4 linked regions of the Homo sapiens genome follow. The protein of the gene in region 2 purifies or fractionates together with the protein of the main gene of each other region. This does not show direct contact. Each region holds a gene or a part of one and is shown on either strand. Other genes may lie near its edges.

Region 1 (3,500 bases), on a different chromosome or scaffold from region 2:
CCCAAAGTGTTGGGATTACAGGCATGAGCCACTGCACCCGGCCTAGAGCAGTATTTCTGTATTGATGTTTTTTAGGAATTTAACATCCCCTTTCCAGTTTTCATTGTTAGCCTCAGAATACTTAGAAAGTTCCTTTCTAACCTGTACTCCCACTGTCTCCCAGGTGCCTGAGCCCTGGTGCTTGTGCAGGGCCCCCAATCCAGGCTCTGCCCCATCCCAATAGCCCTGTCCTGCCCTGAAACTGCCCTTGAGCTGGGCTTTTGTGTCTGTGGAGGCGGGGACTGTCATCCTCTCTGCCTCGTCTCTGTTAGACAGCACAATTCGATGTCAGCCCGCCACCTGACGTTGTGTATCTGTCATCCTCTCTGCCTCATCTCTGTCAGACGGCACTGATTCGATGTCAGCCCGCCACCTGACGTTGTGTATCTGTTTGCTTAACCAACCCTGGCATATGTGATCATTCTAGTCCCTTGACCTCCAAATTTTCATTCCTATGCGAAGACCTGGCATCGAGATTTGTGGTTGGAGAGGCAGGAGGCAGGCGTGTGTCCCCACAGTAGCCAGCTGTGAAGGATTTGGCCCTTTTGCCTCTGAGTATCCAGGGAATGGCCAGGGCTCCTGGGGAACTCAGCGACTGGACTTTCGGGCCCAGAACCCAGGAGGGCAGGCGTAGGGACGGGATGGCATCAGGGAGGTGGCAGTCGAAAGGACCCGAGTGGGCAGAGGAATGTGAATAGCCCCACCCCACGCACAAGCTCAGCAGCTCTGCGGGGCCACTGGTTTAGCGGCAGTTCTTGACATCAGCGTCAGCATCTGAGGTTGATAATTTTCTTAGGAGCTTGCTTGTGTTAATCCTACTAATAATTTACAAAATCCTAAGTCACTTGACTATTATGCCCATATTTTTGCCTTTTGCCATTTCTTCCTTTCCATCAGCTCCAGAGCCCCTTCCTGTCAGCTCCTCTGAGCCTTTTTGACAGGGCAGGCCGCTCCCCGCCCCTCCGCAAAGACTTTTTAATATTCTTTTATATGCTTTGACGTTTCTTGCCCACTGTATTCGAGGAGTTTCCCCATTTCCACCCGGAAGTCCGTCCTTGCTGATGTAACACCATGTCAGGTGTGGCTTGTTTTCCCGAGGAGCCTGGTGGCCACAGCCTCAGCTTCAGCCACTTCCTGGTTCTCGGTGGCCAGTCCCCACAGACTGTGAGACCTATGCTTGCTAATGTTAACTAAGAAGAGAATCTGAAAGTATTTACTTCAGAAACCTCCTTTTTGCTAGTTAGCGCCAGAGTGAGTAGATTAATCAGGGCAAAAGAGAATGAGAGGTGCTGTTAGTGTGTTACAGGGAAAAGTCACCCGAAGGCAGAATGATAGGATCGAATGGGGACATGCCCAGGATAGGCCCCAGTGGTGGGTACTGTGGTTTGCATGGAGGTAGCTGGAGGTCCGCTTAGAAATTCTGCATCAGCACTGGGTCTGGTTTTTGTTTTTTTGTTTTTGAGACGGTCTGGCTCGGTCGCCCAGGCTTAAGTGCAGTAGTGTGGTCTCAGCTCACCACAGTCTTGACTTCCTGGGCTCAAGCTATCCTCCCACTTCAGCCTTCTGAGTAGCCGGGACTACGGGCGCACACCCCCACACCTGTCTAACTTTTGTATGTTTTGTAGAGACAGGGTCTTCCTATGTTGCCCAGGCTGGTGTCAGACTCCTAGGCTCAAGAGACCCTCCTGCCAAGACCTCCCGAAGTGCTGGAATTGCAGGCATTAGCCACACAGCGCCTAGCCTGGTCTGTTTACAGAGTCAGCAAATTCTGGCCTTTAGGCTACCCAGCCTTGTTTGTACATGAAGTTTTATTGAAACATGGTCACGCCCACACGGTCAGAGTTGGGTTTCGTCCCCGTGGCCCGTAATGCCTAAAATAGTGACTCTGGCGCTTTAAGAAACAGTTTGGGAACTCCTGCCTGAAGGAGAATCGGAAACAGCACTGAAGATGTTACTGAGGTTTAAATGCGACCCAAACAGAAAGGGCTTCGGGGCGGTTGGTGTCCGTCTGATTAACCTGCTGTCTGCTGGTTACATGTGGATTAGAATCTTAAACTGTTACGCTTGGCAAGATGAATGACTACAACTTTTCATTATTATTTTTTGTAAATTATGCATTTTCACTTGTAGAAATCTCTTTCCTTGTGGAGACTCAATGGTTTGCATTATTGATGATCGAGAAGATGTCTGGAAGTTTGCCCCCAATCTGATAACTGTGAAGAAATATGTATACTTCCAGGGCACGGGTGATATGAATGCGCCCCCTGGGTCCCGAGAATCTCAGACGAGAAAGAAAGGTGGGTAACCTCCTTCCTGATTCTCTAGAAGAATTCACATTTGCTTATTGTTTAGCTCTTCTTATTTCTTATCTCTGTTTTGACTGCTATAAATTCAAGATACACTTTTTTTATTTGTGTTTCAGTAGAGATTATTGGATTTATTTATAGAGTACTGAAAAACAGGATATTAGGTTGTTTCAATTTGGGCTTTAAAAAAAATGGCCCTCACTTAAGCGTTTTCCCAGTTGAATAAAAACTAGAGGATGCTGTTTAACCTAACACATCCGAATAACTCCCTTCATCCCAGTTTTCCTTAAACACATCCCTGGGTATTGGGCCATAGTGTTCTGTAGAGAGAGTGAATGTGGGGGCGGTGGCTCTGCGGGGAATAACCGTTCCCCATGCGCAGTGGTCAGGCTGGGCGCTGGCTGGGGCCCCAGAGAGCAGCGTGGTTTAACTTGTCAGTCAGGCATGCAGCTGACGTCCACCCTACGAAAGTTAAGTGTTTTTTGATCTTTAGTTTTTTGAAAAATATTTTGAGGCACACGTTTATTGCTGTAGTCACTAAAATGGAACTTGGAGGTTAGGACCAGGGGAGGGTGAAACTAGGGGCATTCCTGTAGAAGGTAGAGACTTTCACCAGATGGGTGGGGTCAGCGTGGAGTTGCTGACTTCCTCCAGACCGTGGCTTGGGAAACCGTGGCCATGGTGGTGCCAGGTCATCCGGGGCTTACAGTCACGGTGGCGCCAGGTCTGCAGGGGCTTACGGCCACGGTGGCGCCAGGTCTGCAGGGGCTTACGGCCACGGTGGCGCCAGGTCTGCAGGGGCTTACGGCCACGGTGGCGCCAGGTCTGCAGGGGCTTACGGCCACGGTGGTGCCAGGTCTGCAGGGGCTTACGGCCACGGTGGCGCCAGGTCGTCAGGGGCTTACGGCCACGGTGGCGCCAGGTCTGCAGGGGCTTACGGTCACGGTGGCGCCAGGTCTGCAGCCCGGAAACCTCTAGTTGTCCTTACAGGTGGAGGATCCCTCCTCCCCCAAATCCAAAGCTTTTTGAGTGCCCACATGGTGCTTAAAGGAAATACTCATTAGGGTATTTTGGATTTTTTGGATTGGGGATGTTCAGCTGGTAAGTTTAACGCAAATACTCCAAACTCAGAAAAAAATTCAATATCCAAAACGT
Region 2 (3,500 bases):
CTGGTGTGAACAAAGGCGCTAAAATCAAAGAACTTCCAAGTTTTAATCTGTCAGAGATTGGCTGTGAAGTATGGGGGAAGAGTCATTTAATCTCTCTCCATCAGTTCCCACTTCTGTACAATGAGGGTAAAACTATGGCGGCACCTCTCATGGGTACTGTGTGGACTGCCTAATTAAAGCTAATTAAGCCCCTGGAAAGAACCAGAAAATACTACGTAAATGCTGAGTATTTATGTGCCGCTAACAGACACAAAAACTCCCAAGGGACAAGATTCTGTGCCGACAGCACATTCTCTATTGGTGATTACTAATCACCCACTGCTTACAAAGAAAGGCACTGTTTTCAGTAACAGGGTAGTTTAAAAAAAAAATCACACAATGTTGTTCAACAACACCATCTTTATTCAAAAATATATATCTATGAGACATTTCAGAATATACTGCTGCCGCCAACGACAGCCTATACTTCTAAATAGTCCTAAATTAATATACAAATTTAAGCTTTGAAAATATTCTTTAAGAAAAACAAACAAACAAAAACAAGGGAAGATTGAAGACTTTCTGAGGAATATGACCTAAAGGAAAGGTCCTTTGAGGCCTACAGATGCCCTAAGAAAGAAAAAACACAAAAACAAAAACCACCCACCCCACCCACCAAGTCACCTCATACATACAAGGAGGAAAGTTCATTTAAATTAAACAAATGAAGTAAGCACACTTTGGGAGGATGTGGACAGCAGAATTAAGATTTAAAAAACGAAAGCATTTCATCAAAACAAAAAACTAACTTCCTCACAGGAAGTCCACTAGTAACAGGTATTAAGAGGCCAACACATTCATTTACATAATTGCTACAGTTTCATTTCTTAACTTTTGCTGTAATAATTATGCACCAATTGCTGGTCAGAGACTCAGTTGGATAAAACAGAGCAGTGGGCTAAATCCATTCTGCTATATTTTCATCTAGTTGATCAGAGCAAATATCTACGATCCTCTTTTGGCTGGATTGTGGCTGCTCAGATCGCACTTCCTTGGTGAAAGCATAGAGTGTCCCAGATGGGCCTGCTCCAAAACACGCTCATCTAGAAAGCAGCACACCACGGGGGGTGGGGGAGAGGTTGGGGAGTGCAGCAGCAGCAAAGATTACAATTTATCTTGCAATTTTAGTGATGTCACCTATGGCCTCTGGAAGAAAAACCTTATAGACTCATTAATTTAACAGTGACAGAACGACAGGCAGTGTCCATAAGCAAACAACACACAGTCTGAATTCAAATCTGAATAACAGCTCAAACACTACTAGGTTCTACACAGAGTTAAACTGAGTATCTGCTATGACTTTTCATTGTTCTCACTTCATGACAAGCAGGAGAGCTTCTGGAAGGGAAGCCCGTTATGCTTTATAAACATAGGTTATGTTTCAATGTGTTTAACATGTAAAATTACATGTAATTTTTGGTGATCCTGGAAGTAGCAACACAAATTAATGGAGATTACAAAGCCCCCTCCACTGAATTCCTTTTTATATAGTTTGGGTTTCAGCCTCTGGTCTATAACTCCTATTACACTACTGGGGCAAATCGCTTTCTGCCCTTTCCAATGTCAAAAATAAGCCTGCCAAATTAGAATGATTTACAATTGGCAGGCTGAACCTTTACTATAAGCAAGATAAAAATTGTCTCTAACTACATTATATAGTCATAATGTCAGCTGACATGATAATAGAATTAAAACCCCCAATTAATATCCCCAACTCCCCGCTTCCCCTGCCCGAGACGAGCTATTCAATAACATCTGACGCAAGTACTCCCCGTCGTGTGGGGACAAGGACCTGTGCAGTGGCGTGACATGACAGACGGACCTGCTCAGCGTCCTATTTGCAGTGATGTTCGAGTTTAGCCACCGTACTGTGGACATGCACCCAGACAGCGGATTAAACGTTAGTGTGTACCCTACTCCCAGAAGAAAGGGTCCAAGAAACACCCACACAGATCCCAAATGCAGCACACCTGTGTGTGGGGCCTTCATCTTTTGGAGCCCACCAATGCCTGCCATCCCTAACAACTGCCTTCGCACCCACCAGGGATCAAGGCATTCTGTTTTTCGGAACGTGCTCCGACAGTGGAGAAGTGCAGCATGGGAAGGTTGTATCTAGGAACTTGAAGCAAATAAATTCCTTTTAATTCATGCTTGTGATCCCTGTTATTCTGTCTCTGAACTGTGCCTTTATGCTCCAGATTAGCTTTGAATCTTATTGCTAGATTCTCCAATCTGTTTACAAAATAAATGCACCTAATCTTCGTGCATCACTAGGAGAAGCAATGGAAAGGGAGGATCAGAGATTTGGCAAACTCTTTATGGCAACGCTACGACAGCTGTGCCTACAACCTTTTGGGGCAGATGCAGCTGGGAAAGCCAACGTCTCCAGGACAAGTGCCTTAGTGGAAGCCCACACCGAACTTGAACAAGCCCAGCCCAGAAAGGAGAAGCTGCTTTCATGATAAAATGCTGTCATGAGGGACAAGATTCTTTCGAAAGCTTCCAGAAGTACACATGATTTTCATAACTTCTTAGGTATAAGGAGACAGTTAAGAATGGAAAACCAACAGGGGGGCATGAAAATATGAAGTGGGAGAAAAAGTCTGTAGTCTTTGCAAATATGAATATAAACCAGATTCCAGTCGCCACTGTTCTGAACTGTGCTCAAGATGAGAGGCTGAAGAGGAGAATCAGAGTCTGAGGTTCTTTCTTGAGGCTGGGGGGCTGGGCGGAAGAAGGGATAGAACCAGGGGCTAGAAGGTTATTTCCAACCATGACTTGCCCTCTTCTTTCTGCTGGTACAAACAGAAATCTGGGACATGACACCCATCCTAGTCAGTTGAAAACAGGTCCCCAGCAGAGGGCAGGGGGGCTAAGCCCCCTGTGACGTTGGGCAGCAGTGAGAGGTCTGGCAAGCTCTGAATATGGGATTTCAGTTCCTTGCGGACCTGGGTTACTCGTGCAAGCTTCTGTTTGTATTCCTAAGGAGATAAAGAGAAGACAATACCGTTAAGTCTGTGCGTGCCGAGGGCATGGGTGCTGCTGGAGCCGGGCAGCTACTCTCGTCCTCGTGTTCTTCCTTGTCCCCACCAGCCTGCCCACCCTGTTCAGCTATATCACAAAGCTAGGGCTTCAAATGCTCAAAAGGCAAAACTTTCTATCAAAAAAGGAACGCAGAGTGCCATATTGGCAACAGTGAATTAAATGGTATTCAATTTAGGGCTTGAGATTTGGAAGTAGAAAGAAATAACACTTGGTATTTGCATTCTCTTTTTGTTGGTTCTCAAAAGTTTCAAAATGCTTTATAAAATAAAACAGACACCTGAGCCTCACAATTTCTTTGCGGACTCCACCTAGATATGGCAAGAAAAAAAACACTGAAGTTATACTTCCTATGTTAAAGCTTGGAGATTAACCTAAATTTATCATGTTTTGCAAACAAGCACTATAGAAGCTCAAAA
Region 3 (3,500 bases), on a different chromosome or scaffold from region 2:
ACCCGAAAATTTTGAAAGGTTAAGGATCTCACCTTACTTCATATATCCATCCCTCGACAGCACAGGATTAAGTACAGGGGTATTGGTCTTTAAACTTATCCTTAGCAACTCTAGTTTTACAAACACACACACACCCTGTGGCACATGGTAGGCCTAACCTAATCTGGTGAAGAACAGATCTGGAGATGTAAAGCACGTCCTGTGCCATAGGATTAGACAACCCTCACCTAATCTTGGCTTGCTCTCTGGCCTTTTCACCGGGCCCAGCCTCTCCTAGCCTCTGTGTACCACCATTTCCTGTTTAGACTAATTCCCAATCTTCCAGTAGAAGGCAATCAAGTCATGGGGCCACCCAGTTAAAACCTAGTCTCCCATAAAACATTTTCAAGGCAGAGGGGGTTTCAAGAGGACACTATGGCAGAAAAGCCAGCTCTTATTGGCAAAAATGAGGTAGTTCAATAGGCTGTGCACTCCAAATAGTTGCTCTCCACGGTGGCAAAAACAACAAAAAGTAATTCCTGCTGCGCAGACCTGGAGCTGCTGCTGGCTATCCCTGAGATTGCTCATGTACCTGAGAACACAGTGCAGGAAATGAGGGCCTTAGATTAAAATATACAAAAATACAAAACCAGAATATTTATATTAAGGAAAAAAAGTTAAAATGCACAAGATACGTCATTCGCACACAGCTAGTGCAGTTGGCATCCTGGAGAAAGTGGGACCCAAGGTGCAGTATCCAAGGGAGCAAATAAATAAAATCACATTGGCCCAGAATGGGGCGGGGGTGAGCATAGAGCAGCAGGTCTGCAGCTGTTCCCCCAAACACCCTTTTTGCCATCATCATTACCCATTGCTTGGGACAGCTGCCAGCACCCTATCCCAAAAGTGGGTATGAGGATACAAGATGTGAAAAAAAAACAATGCTTACTCCTGAGAGATCTCCTTCCACAGAATGTAGTGGCTTGGCTCCATGAATCTGGTCTTATACTTAATCATTTCACTCTGGCATGGGAATTATTATATATCCTTCTTTAAAAGGAAAACAACTTCCCTATCCAGGCCACTTTCAAAAGCTGGAAATTCTGGGGATGGAGACTCAAAGTATGCAGGTTGTAGGGTGATTCCCCCCTCCTGGTTGCCCCCAGAACCCTCACTTGCATTTGGACAGAGCATGGTTGGAGTTCCTTTGACTCACCCTTTCCCCCCACCTAGAGGGAAGAAAGGGTGATGGTGTGAACCCAAGCCTGAGATACATGGCAGTGCCAACTAGCCCCAATGCACCCTATTCCCACTTTCTCCACTCTGCCTGCTCCTCAAAACTTCCTGATAGCAAAAGAATAGCCCCCACCCATTGTGGCTCAATTCTGTGCCTCCGGGAGCAGGGTAGGGCTGTGGATTTCTTCTTCTTCCTCTCGAAAGTAGGTTGGCTTTCCCTGTGCACTAGGGCCCTGCTGGGCCTTCAGCGGACATGAGGCTACCATATGGCTGATGCTCTGGCAGAAGTGGCACTTCTTGGGCTGGGGTGGCAGCTTGCATTCCTTGGCATGATGATCTAGACCTCCACAGTTGTAGCACCTAGTACAAAGCAAGATCGTAAAAGTAAGAGAAAGGAGCAAGAAGAGGCCAGATGCCTCCCACGAATGAGGACACCTGGGCTCTGGTACAGGTTTGTCACTTACTTCCCTTCCCAGAGACCAAACTTCCCACTTGCAAAAGGAGGACTATTACTAAATGATCTCTAAGTCCTTTCCACATCTAATTGTCTAGGTGATCTCTTCAGATTCATGTCAACTTGAAAATACCAAGATACCAGAAATATAAGTTACTGACCCCAACTAGGAACTGCAACTTGGGGGATAGGAGAGATTCTTCCATACCCTTAATATAGGAGAAATTAAAGAAGCCAAATTATAGTATCTGTTCAGAGCTAAGGGGCTTTAAGCCCAAGCAAGATTAAGGAAACCAGCCATTTGCAGACCTGGTAAAGCAGCAACAGATATAGATAATACTGTCTTGTCCCACCATTTGCAAATCTATGATCTCCTTTAATTCTAAAACCATCCTAGGATGTTAGTATCACTGCCTCACTTAACAATTGAGGCTTAGAGACCACAGAGCAAACTTACTTGTCCCAAGTAGCACTAAGTCACCCCCAGTGGCCTCCTCACCTACTGCCCTTGCCCACACCTATTGCAGGCGCTCAGCCTTCCAGATGCTGCCAGGGACCACAGGCTTCCCTTTGTCTTTTGCAGTGTGACCCAAAAAGTGACAGGATTGGGAGACTGGGGATGCCCTTAGCAACCTATATAAGCTGCCTTCCAATCCATACCTGTCTCCTTTTGATCTGCGCTTCTGCATGCTCTTTCCTTTTGGCCGCCTCTCACTCCCAATACAGAATACTCCACCAGGTCCGGTGACACGGATGGATTCCAGACCCTTGGCTGACTTCTTAAAGGTGAACTCCACTGCCTCACCCTCCTTCAAGCTCCGGAACCCTTCCATGTGCAGCTTACTCTGGTGAAGGGAAATGCAGTAAATTTTAACATTAATTTCCATTATTATACCAAAAGACAAGGAACTCTTATTCCTGTAGGGTAGGAATCAAATGTGATGGTACTCCTATTTTACTGGTAAGGAAACTGACTCAAAGAGTCACTACGATTAAGAACAACAAAGTCTACCAGTACATTAACAAAAATCGTAATTATATAAGCAGATGCCATGACATTTTTGTAGCTATTCAGGTTTAAAGTTCTTAATAAAATAGAACAGAGGGCCGGGTACGGTGGCTCACACCTATAATCCTAGCACTTTGAGAGGCTGAGGCGGGAGGATCACCTGAAGTCAGGAGTTCGAGACCAGCTTGGCCAACATGGTGAAACTCTGTCTCTACTAAAAATAAAAAAAATTAGCTGGGCGTGGTGGCGGGCACCTGTAATCCCAGCTACTTGGGAGACTGAGGCAGGAGAATTGCTTGAACCCAGGAAGCAAAGGTTGCAGTGAGCTGAGATCACACTATTGCACTCCAGCCTGGGCGACAGAGTGAGACTTTGTCTCAAAAACAAACAAACAAACAACAACAAACAGAAAAATTTGTAAATACAAGCATTTGGAAGAAATCAACAAATATAAAATTACGAAATTTAAAGTGTCACACTATAGAGGTTGCAGTGAGCCAAGATGGCGCCTTTGCACTCCAGCCTGGGCAACACAGCAAGACTTCGTCTCAAAAATAAATAAATAAAATAAAAGTAAAAATAGCTGGGCATGGTGGCTCAGCCACACACGGTGGCTTACGCCTTTAACCCCAGCACTTTGGGAGGCTGAAGCAGGTGGATCACGAGGTCCAGAGTTCGAGACCAGCCTGGCCAACATGGTGAAACCCTGTCTCTACTAAAAATACAAAAATTAGCCGGGTGTGGTGGTGGGCGCCTGTAATCCCAGCTACTTGGGCAGTTGGGGCAGGAGAGTTGCTTGAACCCCGGAGGCAGAGGTTTCAG
Region 4 (4,197 bases), on a different chromosome or scaffold from region 2:
GTCATTCAAGACAAAAATCTACCAGCTATCTTAGATGCCTCTCACATCTCACTAGCTGACCTTCATTCTTTTTTTTTAACTTTATCTTTTTTTTTCAGGCAGATAAGACTTTCTTTTTTTAGTCTGTTTTTATTATATTGTAATTTTCTTGACTGATTATCACCACCGAATCTCCTGTATGTAGTACAATTCTAGCCATGTAGTAGGAACTCATTAAGACCTATGCTGAATGAATCCACAAATAATTTATTACTAAACATTTTAATTTCAAACGCTAAAAAAAAAAAAAAAAAAAAGCAGTTTTCTCTGCAATTCCTGTCACTGCTCCAAGTTTCTTACAAGAAGGAGGTTAAGGTTTGGGTAGAAGGGGGCCAAAGATGGAAACTGAGGAGCAAGTGTAAGATGCAGAAGAGCTGGAAGACAAAGGGTTGTAGTCAACGAGTGAGCTCTTGGAGTTTAAAGTTTCACAGACAGTACTTACTGTAACTTTAAAATTTCAGACACAGCACTTACTGTAATTTTCTTGTCTCTAAAGCAGGCTTTGAACCTGGATAGATTTGGATAGAACCCCGACTTTGTCATTTGCTAACTGCAAGGCTTTGAATAAACGATTTAATTTCTCTGCGTCTGTTTCCTCATCTGTGAAATGAGGATAACAATACTGTCCACCTTACAACAATGTTAATAATCGGAAAAAGGACATAGGTAACGTGCCTGGCCTGTAGCTCACCAAATATTAGGTGGTGTTGCGATTAAGATGCCTTAGAACAATTCAGTTCTCCGACTCTCTAGACCTGAGGAACCTTCCCAGGGAACCCCTAACTTTCCCAGACCACACTGTCAGATATTCTATAGGCCCCGCCCCTCCAGAGCCTCCGAGTCCTCCCTAGCCCACCCGAGCCCGGTCCCCAGCATTACCTGACCCATAGCGCACGTCGTGTGAGTGCAGTCGGACGTTGTGGCGCGTATTGAGTAGCTTCACCACGGAGCCGCAAGTAACGACACCCAGGCTGGACGCTCCCACAGCGCTCCACAAACCCCCCAACAACAGCAGAGGTACTACAGCCATCCTAACTGTATCGCGGAGCCCCAAATCTTCGAAGAAAACTCGGCCCCTCCCCGGAACCGGAAGCTAATGGCGAAACCACGGAGAGAAGGAAGTGAAGAAGCCCGAGTCTGATCTTTATGGTTTATTTGACTAGAGCGGCCTGAGAAACCGGCTGAGCCTGGTTACTTACGATACTCTCGCTCTGTTCCAGGGGCTCAGTGACAGCTGCCTTCCTGAGCCGCTTCGGTTACCTTTCGCACCCACGAGACGAAAGCTTCCGAGAGCGGGAGAGAGAACAAGAAATGGCCCGCCCACTCCCGGTGACAGGGAGCCGGAAATGACGTAGCACGTTGACGCAGCAGCGGCGGCGGTGGCGGCGGAGGGGCCGTGCGGTGGGTCCGTACTATCTTTTCCCAGTCTCGGTTCGACGACTCCATTTTCCTCGGTGGGGGCTTAGCGCACTGGAGGAGCGGCGGGCTTCAGACAGGTAAAGTTCCGACTGGAGAGCGTGTTTCTCGCAGGAGTCAGGTGGGGAACCGGGCTCCTAGGGCCTGGTCACGTAAGGGAAGAGGCAGTGGGGAGCCGTATGCGGGAAGAAGGGGGAGCCTGGCCTTCCCTGCTCTATGGGGGGAAGGGGGAGGAAAGCGCTGTAGTTGCTCAGAGTCCGAAAGCTTTTCCCAGCCCAGTGACACCCGGAACCCGTGAATCGGGTGGCACGTTGAATCAACAGGCTTCCTGGCATCCCGTCCTTCTCTCCGCAGGTTTTTAAAACTGGGCCACGCAAAAGGATTGGGGATGGAAGGGACCTGGGGCTTCTGAGCCAGGATCAGGTGATCGAGTTGTTTGTTCTGGGGATATGAATCCTGTGGAGCTTTCAGCAGCTCGGCCATCAGGCTAGAGGGCGATGCCAAATTCCAGCTCTTTACATATTGCTGAATAATACAAATAGAACTTTTTGTAGATGGTTGCATCCTTCATCCCTTTCTAAAGATCGAAGGTCTTGTAGAAGTCCTAAAGCCCGTCCATTCTCTATAGATTCATTTCCTCAAACGTTTGCCAGAGGCCTATCATGAACATCAAAATTAGTTATTAAGTCAAAACTCCATCTTCTAGTTTCTACCTTTCTCCTCAGGCACTCCTTTGAACCAGCTGGAGAAGTTAATTTTCCTGGGTTGTTGCAAGAACTGATACTTATTTCAGAGGGCTAAGATCTCTGAAAATACTTCCGTGGAAATTCACTGTAATATCAAAAGTAACAAGGGTGTATGAAGCTACATCATTAATGAGCATTAGGGAGTGTAAACAATATTGAATTTGATTAATTTCTTCGGAAAAATGTCTGGTTCCACTGTTTATCTGGAAGTTACCAGTTTGTAAGTCTTCAGTGTTTTGATTACAGAAACATAACTGCTCTTCCATCAGCTGTGAATTTAGAGCCCTTTTTTACGAGTAATGTCCCTTTCACCAGTACAAGTACATTTTTATTCACTTGGCTTGTGTGGCTGCTAGATTGGATTAGCATAGCCTTGCAACTCTAGGAGGTTTTAACTTCATCAGGAGATTAATTACATCAGAAAGTGGTACCGTCTGGAGAGGCTTAGTCAAATTTTACAGTTCTTCCTCTGAAAGCCTACCTAGTGTGGTGGAAACATGATCTTTGTAGGCAAATACGTTTGCCCTGATTCTATATTCTTGACCTTAATAAATGGCACTACCATCAGTCCTGCCTGTAATCCTTGTCTTCCTTCCTGTCCACTATTTCCCAATAAAATCAGTCACCAAATCCTGTCTCTCCCTGAAACTGTTCCCATCAGCATACAAATTATGTTCTGGTATCCTTCACATCCCTCTCCAATTACCATGCCAATTTTTTAAATTTCCATTCATAGATTTCTACCTGTACCAACTCAGCTTTCTCAACTTTCATTCACTCTTCATTTTATACCAATCTGGCTTCTCTTCTGCCCACTCCATTTTTTTTTTTTTTTTTGTGGAGACAGGGTCTTGCTCTGTTGCCCAGGTTGGAGTGCAGTGGCCCCATCATAGCTCACTGCCACCTGGAACTCCTGAGCTCAAGCAGTCCTCCTGAGGCAGCTTCTAGTAATCAAGTGCCACCACATCTACTTTGCCCACTCCATTGAAGTTGCTCTTATCAAGGTCACCAGTGACTTCTATGTTGCCAAATCCAATGGATACTTTGTTCTCATATTCCTCTGTCTCTGCAATATTCAACATAGTTACTCCTGCCTCCAAACTTTCATCTTGGCTTTATTGACATTTCACTCTTGGATTTTCTCCATTTCTCCGGCTGTTCCTTCTGAGTCTCATTTGCTAGCAACTTTTGCTCTCTATCTAATGTCTAAATGCTGGGGCTGGTCGCAGTGGCTCATGCCTATAATCCCAGCACTTTGGGAGGTCGAGGTGGGCAGATCACTTGAGGTCAGGAGTTCACAACCAGCCTGGCCAGCATGGTGAAACCCCATCTCTACTAAAAATACAAAAACTAGCCGGGCGTGGCGACACGCCTGTAATCCCAGCTACTTGGGAGGCTGAGGCAGGAGAATCACTTGAACCAGGGAGGCAGAGGTGCAGTGAGCAGAGATCATGCCACTGCACTCCAGCATGGGCAACAGAACAAAACTCCGTCTCAAAATATATGTATATCTACATATGTTGGAATTCTCACAGGAATCCCGAGCCTTCTACATGCTTCCCTTTAGGTAACCCAGCCCCATGGCTTTAATTACCACCTGAAAGTTGGCAACTCCAAAGTTTAAATCTCTAGTCCAGCCCTCTCCTCTATGTTGCAGAATCACGCGTCAAAAATGCCTGTTTAATTATCTCCATTTGGATATTTCTTAGGCACCCAAAGCTAACATAACCAAAAGAAAGTTTTGGTTTTCTCATCATTGCAAACCTTATCCTCCCGTTTCACTGAGTGGTGCTCCTATCCGCAGGGTTACCAAAGATAGACCTCTGAGAATCATCTTTGTTCTTCTCCTTTACTACTCCTCTTCCCCAGTCTTTCAGTAAGTCTTGTCACTTCCACTTGCAGAATGTTTTTGTAATCTGTCTTCTATTCTCCATCTTCACTTTTACCACCTTATTCCAAGCCACCACCATCTTTTGCCTGGGCTACCACAACAGTA

Evidence for each region.
Region 1: the proteins of RPRD1B (region 2) and CTDP1 purify together in Homo sapiens (affinity purification with mass spectrometry; 4 studies listed by BioGRID and IntAct, with this or other methods). This does not show direct contact.
Region 3: the proteins of RPRD1B (region 2) and LIN28A purify together in Homo sapiens (co-immunoprecipitation; one large-scale study listed by IntAct). This does not show direct contact.
Region 4: the proteins of RPRD1B (region 2) and SUPT6H purify together in Homo sapiens (affinity purification with mass spectrometry; 4 studies listed by BioGRID and IntAct, with this or other methods). This does not show direct contact.

The regions. Positions count from the first base shown.
Region 1 is NC_000018.10:79,710,803-79,714,302, forward strand, and holds part of CTDP1 (RNA polymerase II subunit A C-terminal domain phosphatase), read left to right. Parts: intron 1-2,169; coding exon 2,170-2,336; intron 2,337-3,500. UniProt on the Homo sapiens protein: Processively dephosphorylates 'Ser-2' and 'Ser-5' of the heptad repeats YSPTSPS in the C-terminal domain of the largest RNA polymerase II subunit. This promotes the activity of RNA polymerase II.
Region 2 is NC_000020.11:38,089,246-38,092,745, reverse strand, and holds the end of RPRD1B (regulation of nuclear pre-mRNA domain-containing protein 1B), read right to left. Parts: intron 3,021-3,500; coding exon 2,871-3,020; 3' UTR 382-2,870; downstream 1-381. UniProt on the Homo sapiens protein: Interacts with phosphorylated C-terminal heptapeptide repeat domain (CTD) of the largest RNA polymerase II subunit POLR2A, and participates in dephosphorylation of the CTD by RPAP2. Transcriptional regulator which enhances expression of CCND1.
Region 3 is NC_000001.11:26,424,317-26,427,816, reverse strand, and holds part of LIN28A (protein lin-28 homolog A), read right to left. Parts: intron 2,515-3,500; coding exon 2,330-2,514; intron 1,576-2,329; coding exon 1,359-1,575; 3' UTR 1-1,358. UniProt on the Homo sapiens protein: RNA-binding protein that inhibits processing of pre-let-7 miRNAs and regulates translation of mRNAs that control developmental timing, pluripotency and metabolism.
Region 4 is NC_000017.11:28,660,808-28,665,004, forward strand, and holds the start of SUPT6H (transcription elongation factor SPT6), read left to right. Parts: upstream 1-1,397; 5' UTR 1,398-1,535; intron 1,536-1,809; exon of another isoform or gene 1,810-1,878; intron 1,879-4,197. Other genes in the region: SDF2 (stromal cell-derived factor 2), read right to left, coding at 919-1,069.